Linked DNA regions of Homo sapiens. The protein of the gene in region 2 purifies or fractionates together with the protein of the main gene of each other region. This does not show direct contact. Each region holds a gene or a part of one and is shown on either strand. Other genes may lie near its edges.

The links. The genes of interacting proteins can lie anywhere in the genome.
Region 1: the proteins of COQ7 (region 2) and NIPSNAP2 purify together in Homo sapiens (co-immunoprecipitation; one large-scale study listed by IntAct). This does not show direct contact.

The regions. Positions count from the first base shown.
Region 1 is NC_000007.14:55,971,085-55,974,584, reverse strand, and holds part of NIPSNAP2 (protein NipSnap homolog 2), read right to left. Parts: intron 1-3,500. UniProt on the Homo sapiens protein: Protein involved in mitophagy by facilitating recruitment of the autophagy machinery required for clearance of damaged mitochondria.
Region 2 is NC_000016.10:19,070,614-19,074,113, forward strand, and holds part of COQ7 (NADPH-dependent 3-demethoxyubiquinone 3-hydroxylase, mitochondrial), read left to right. Parts: intron 1-1,314; coding exon 1,315-1,493; intron 1,494-3,307; coding exon 3,308-3,422; exon of another isoform or gene 3,423-3,484; intron 3,485-3,500. UniProt on the Homo sapiens protein: Catalyzes the hydroxylation of the 5-methoxy-2-methyl-3-(all-trans-polyprenyl)benzoquinone at the C6 position and participates in the biosynthesis of ubiquinone.

The DNA.
Region 1 (3,500 bases), on a different chromosome or scaffold from region 2:
GAGCCACTGCGCCCAGCCTTCTACAATAGTATTTCTAATCTGCTTGGTAGACTTGCTTAAGCACCCAGATACCACCAGGTAAACATTAAGAGGAAAAGAAAGAGCAACTCCAGGTATTAAAAAGGGGGACCAGGAATTTAAACAAGGGACAAGAAAAACTCTCATGAGAGCAAATTCCCCAGTACTTCATGAAATGAACACATGGATTTCATACTACAATAATAGAAATTCCTATTCTTATGCAGCAACGGTATTTTAGAAGTAGGGCTCTAAATTTCACATGATACTGGCAGCCTTTTTCTTTCTTTCTTTCTTTCTTTTTTTTTGCTTAAAAAATCAGTTTGCTGCTTTATTTATTTATTTTTGAGGCAGGGTCTCATTGCACTTGCTGGAGTGCAGTAGTGCAATCTCGGCTCACTGCAACCTCTGCCTCCCAGGTTCCAGCAATTCTCCCACCTCAGCCTCCTGACTATCTGGGACTACAGGTGCATGCCACCACATCCGGCTAATCTTTGTATTTTTAGTAGGGACAGGGTTTCATCATGTTGGCCAGGTTGGTCTCGAATTCCTGGCCTTAAGTGATCCGCCAGCCTCAGCCTCCCAGAGTGCTGAGATTGCAAGGGTGAGCTGCCGCACTCAGCCTAGTTTGCTGCTTTCTTGAACAAACATTACAGAGCAATCTTCTCCCCAATATGATGTTCTTTTAATTTAAAAACCAATTCATAGGATATTGTCTCAAATAGGTAGAAACCAGATATAAAGATTTTTGAATGATGTGAACTTACAAATACAAATATATTGGCCGGGAGTGGTGGCTCACGCTTCTAAATCCCAGCTCTCTGGGAGGCCGAGGCAGGTGGATCACCTGAGGTCAGGAGTTCAAGACCAGCCTGGCCAACATGGTGAAATCTTGTCTCTACTAACACTACAAAAAAAAAAAAAAATAGCTGGGTGTGGTGGCACACGCCTGTGATCCCAGCTACTCAGGAGGCTGAGGTAGGAGAATCGCTTGAACCCAGGAGGTGGAGATTGCAGTGAGCCAAGTCGTGCCACTGCACTCCAGCCTGGGCTACACAGCAAGACTCAATCTCAAAAAAAGTAATAATAATAAAATAAAATAAAATAAATTAAAAATAAAATGTGCTCTATAAATAATTATAAAGAAATATAAAAGCACGTTTTCACATCCTTCAAAGATTAAAAAGAAGCAAACTCACTTTAAACAAGCAAAATAACAATACCAGTAAATGCAATTTTTCTTGAAAGATAAAAACATATAGTATTAAGTGGCATTTGCAGATGTAAGTTGAAGATGCTTCCAATTTGTGTTTACTATATATAAAAATTCCTAAAAATTAAGAAAGCATTAATGGTGGTTTCCCTGAGAAAATGGTTTAAAGGGATAGAGGGGAAAGACACACAGCTTTCTCCATATAATGTCTATATTGTGCTTTTCTCTTCTGTATTTTTTTTTTCTTTGAGACAGGGTCTCACTTTGTCACTCAGGCTGGAGTGCAGTGGCGTGATCTTGGCTCACTGTAGCCTCGACCTCCCGGGTTCAAGCTATCCTCCTGTCTCAACCCCTCCCAAGTAGCTGGGACTACAGGTGCCCAGCACCACATCCAACTAATTTTTGTATTTTTTTGTAGAGACAGGGTTTCACCATGCTGCCCAGGTTGGTCTTGAATTTCTGAGCTCAAGTGACCTGCCTGCCTCAGCTTCCCAAAGTCCTGGGATTATAGGCGTGAACCACCACACCCAGCCATATTCCAATAAAAATGAAAGCACATTTTGTCAATTAGTTTGAAGTGTTTTACGTACACTACATTTAGGGATATCTGTTTAATAATATCATGGGCTGGGCACAGTGGCTCATGCTTGTAATCCCAGCACTTTGGGAGGCCAAGGAGGCGGGTGGATCACCTGAGGTCGGGAAACCAGACTGACCAACATGCAGAAACCCCGTCTCTACTAAAAATATAAAATTAGCCAGGCATGGTGGCGCATGCCTGTAATCCCAGCTACTCAGGAGGCTGAGGCAGGAGAATCGCTTGAACCCGGGAGGTGCAGGGTGTAGTGGGCCGAGATCACGCCACTACACTCCAGCCTGGGCAACAAGAGTGAAACTCTGTCTCAAAAAAAAAAAAAAAGAAAAAGAAAAAAGAAACTTACGCATTACTTTAAGGCAACCATATAAAATTAGTGATACACAAAGTAGAAAGTTTTAAGATTTGTTTATGGGACTATGTAATTTCTGTATGTTCTTTTTTTTTTTTGAGACAGAGTCTTGCTCTGTTGCCCAGGCTGGAGGGCAATAGTGGCACAATCTCAGCTCACTGCAACCTCCGCCTCCTGGGTTCAAGTGATTCTCCTGCCTCAGCCTCCTAAGCAGTTGAGACTAGCGGCACCCACCACCACACCCATCTAATTTTTGTATTTTTAGTAGAGGTGGGTTTTCACCATGTTGGCCAGGCTGGTCTTGAACCCCTGACCTCAGGTGATCCACCTGCCTCGGCCTCCCAAAGTGCTGGAATTATAGGTGTGAGCCACTGTGCCCAGCCAATTTCTGTGTTTATTTTAGATTTTAAGTTCATTAAACAGAAATTGTGTCTACAATTTTTTTTGTTAAATAAATTGTAAAAGCTTAGGAATAACAATTATGAACAATTAAGAAAGGGATATAATAAAAAGTGTCTAAAAATACTGACTAGGGAGTTTCACTTAAAATAAGAAATACTAAAGCAATGACTACTAATAGTTTTATGTATATCCTTCCAGAAATACAGAGGCAAACATATATTATGTATATTTATAGACAGATAATATTTTCACTGATAAAGGATGCCTTTGAAATAAAAATCACCCCAACTGAGCATTTATTTCATATCTCAGAAACACCAAAGTCAGCCTGGGCAGCATAGGAAGACCCTGTCTCTACAAAAAAAAATAAAAAGAGTAGCTGGGCATGGTGGCTCGTGCTTATGGTCCTAGCTACCCAGGAACCTGAGGCAGGAGGATCGCTTGAGCCCACAAGTTCAATGCTGTAGTGAGCTATGATCATGCACTGTACTCCAGCCCGGGCAACAGAGCAAGACCACCTCTAAAACAAACAAACAAATAATAATACCAAAGGGATTCCCCTTTGGGTGGGTACAATGAGGTAAGGGATGTGACAATGCTAGTAATCGAAAAATGCAGAGCAGGGGGTGAGACTAAATCAACACAGCACACACAAAAGAACCTGAGTGGCATTTGCTTGTGAACTTGGGCAGCAATCGTCTTGACAAATGAAAAACAAGCCGGCCAGTACTACCCCCAACCGTCAAACTGAAATCTTTGAGTGTCAGGTGACCAAAGCTGCCTAACATGCCCAACCTATCTAGTCATTCGAGTCGCAGCTATGCCAACGGCTGCCCAAATGATAAGATCTGGCTTGGGCCTGGGTTCTTAACTGACAGTGACAATCGCCAAGATGGTAGGGGGCACTTTCCAGAGGATAA
Region 2 (3,500 bases):
GTCCTAGCTACTCTGGAGTCCTAGCTGCTCTAGAGGCTGAAAAAGGAGAATTGCCTGAGTCTGAAAGGTGGAGTTTGCGGTGAGCCAAGATCGCACCTCTGTCTCCAGCCTGGGCGATACAGTCAGAGTCTGTCTCAAAAAAAAAAAAAAGTGATACCAGTGCAGATCGAAGCTACCATTACAAACTAAATGACCCTTAGGTCACTATTTTCCGTATCTGCAAAATGAGGTGAATACACCTTACACACCTAAGAATGCTGCAAAACTCCTCTCTGGCAGGGAAAAAAACCTTTTGAGTTACTCTAATATAAGGCTCAGAGAATATAATTAAGGTGTTAAGGTTAGGAGATTTATTTTTAAAGATAAAATATAATCTGTCATGAAGAATTTACATTTTGAAGATGAGAGTTCATTTGAATTGATTTTGGAGCATAATGAAGTGAAATCTAGGCTCCAAGGCTAGTCTCAAAATCGAATGCCCAACGGTGTGGGGTTTTTAATTTTTTTTTCTGTTTTTGTTTGTTTGTTTGTTTTTGTTTTTAGACAGAGTCTCACTCTGTTGCCCAGGCTGGAGTGCAGTGGCACGATCTTGGCTCACGGCAATCTCTGCCTCCCGGTTTCAAGCTATTCTCCTGCCTCAGCCTCCCGAGGAGGTGGGATTAAAGGCACACGCCAACACACCCAGCTAAATTTTGTATTTTTGGTAGAGATGGGGTTTCACCATGTTGGCGAGGCTGGTCTCAAACTCCTGACCTCAGGTGATCCATTCTCCTTGGCTTCCCAAAGTGTTAGGATTACAGGCATGAGCCACCGCGCCCGGACAGGTGTGGATTTTAAGAGAACTTAGTCTGTGGTTCTCAGCCTTGGCTGAAGAGAAGACTTATGCACAGAGCTTCTAAACAATATCAGTTCAGAGAGCCCCCTCCCAGAGATTGACTGGGGAAGAGCACGGTGTTTTTGAAAGCTCTGTATGGGCCTCTCCTGTACAGCCTGGGCTGGGGCGAAGTGGGCCAGAGGGTTGGTGAACTGGAGAACCATGCTCATCTAGAAGCGGTTGCCATGTTAACTGCCTGGTAAGAAGGTAGGCTCAGCATTTCCAGATCTTCATACACTTAAAGTGAAACCAGAAATCCAGATCTTTAGGTAAAATCCTCTGTTTTAACACTGTAGGTTAAACAGAGTCCGTTTATGGGCACGCCTGGCCCATGGGGAACTGATTTGTGACCTCCATCCCAAAGTGCCCTTTCTGCTGTCTGTAAAAGGAACATCTGGATTTTACCTGATCATAACGAAGAATAAACACTTGCATTTCAGCTTATGGAAGAAGAACCAGTGTCAGATTTCGCAGTTCAGGAATGACTTTAGACAATATCAGTCGGGCAGCTGTGGATCGAATAATCCGGGTGGATCATGCAGGCGAATATGGAGCAAACCGCATCTATGCCGGGCAGATGGCTGTCCTGGGTCGGACCAGCGTCGGGCCAGTCATTCAGGTGGGTGCTTCTTCATCTCCCTCACCCTGGTCTACTGAATGGGCAGATCCAAAGGACTTCAAGTAATGAATCATGGGAGGTCAAGCGTTCCCTAGGGAGATGCCATTGTCTCCAGGAGAGCGAAGGTTGGTTCTTGGTGGAGATGGGGAGCAAAAAGCATATTGTTCTTTTTATGGATAAAGCACAGAGAGACATCTAGTACATAGACAGGTATGCGGTATATCTTTGGTATCAGTACTCCATGGCGGGGGCAGGCAGTAATGAAAAAAGGTTAAGAATCGCTCAGCACAGCAGTCAACTGTGCTGAAATGTTGCAGCCCTGCCCCCTACCGTGCCAGAGAGGTATTGTATCCCAAGAGGCTATGGGAGGACCTGAAATTTGTAGTTACACAGACCTGGTTCACATTTTGGCTCTCTCCCACCTCCTACCTGTGCGACCTTGAGGATGGCACAGGACTTCTCTGGGTTTCCATTTCCGTATCTGCAAAATGGCCTCATAATGGCCTGGGTTTGGGTAAGGAACCGGGTCTGGCCCATAAAGGTCAAGTTAGTACAAGTTAAATGGCCTGCCCTGAACCCTTGGGCAAGCTACTTAGCCTCTCTGTGCTTCAGTTTGTTGTGTATACTGGCGCAGTCATAGTGTGTCCTTCACAGGGATTGTGTGGATTGAATGAATTGCTTGCATGAAGCTATTTGATGGCCCCTGGCACTTAGGACGTGCCATCTAAGTGTTAGCTGCAGCTAGCATTCTCCCTTTTTCCTCTGATGTAAATAATATTCAGGGCCGGGTGTGGTGGCTCACGCCTGTAATCCCAGCACTTTGGGAGGCCGAGGCCAATGGATCGCTTGAGCCCAGGAGTTTGAGACCAGCTTGGGCAATGTGATGAGACTCCGTCTCTACGAAAAATACAAAAATTAGCTGGGTGCAATGGCTCACACCTGTAATCCCAGCACTTTGGGAAGCTGTGGCGGGTGGATCACCTGAGGTTAGGAGTTTGAGATCAGCCTGGCCAACAAGGCAAAACCCTGTCTCTACTAAAAATACAAAACAAATCAGCCAGGCATGGTGGTGCATGCCTGTAGTCCCAGCTGCTTGGGAGGCTGAGGCAAGAGAATCACTTGAACCTGGGAGGCAGAGGTTGCAGGGAGCTGAGATCGCACCACTGCACTCCAGCCTGGGCAACAGAGTGAGACTCCGTCTCAAAAAAACAAAAAAAACCGCACACACACCACAAAATTAGCCAGGTGTAGTGGCATGTGACTGTAATCCCAGCTAATTTGAGAGGCCGAGGTGGGAGGATCGCTTGATCCTGGAGGTTGAGGCTGCGGTGAGCCATGAGCTTGCTACTGCACTACAGTCTGGGTGACAGAGTGAGACCCTGTCTGGAAACAAACAAACCACAACAACAACAAGATGATGCTATTCTAGTAATCTGGAAGGAAATTACACAACAGCCAATGTTCTGCCTTCCTGATTTTGAAATGGGTTAAACATGTCATTTCTTATGTGTGTAGACCCTTGTCATTTACTGGGCACATTGTGGGCCTGAGAGACTTCTGCTGCAACCATGGCTCATGGCAGTCTTAACTGGAATTGAGATAATAGACTGTTTTGTATTCTTGGTGCTCTCTTCTCTTTGTCACAGATTCCTTTAGTCTGATGTTTTACTGTTTCCATTGACGTTTTGAGGGGAATGGGGGAGACAGCAGTTCCATCATTTTCTCCGTTTCTGCTTTGCTCCCTGTATGCCGCTTGGATGAGTGGGAGGCCTCTATGGAATGCTTGCATGTCTTTATTTTTATGTTTCTTGCAGAAAATGTGGGATCAAGAAAAGGACCATTTGAAAAAGTTCAATGAGTTGATGGTTACGTTCAGGGTCCGGCCAACAGTTCTGATGCCCTTGTGGAACGTGCTGGGGTTTGCACTGGGTACGTGTCTCTCTAGAAGAGCTTATGCAAGCTTGGGGATCTAGGATGATTAAATCCTTCAGGTATCATGTTCACAAT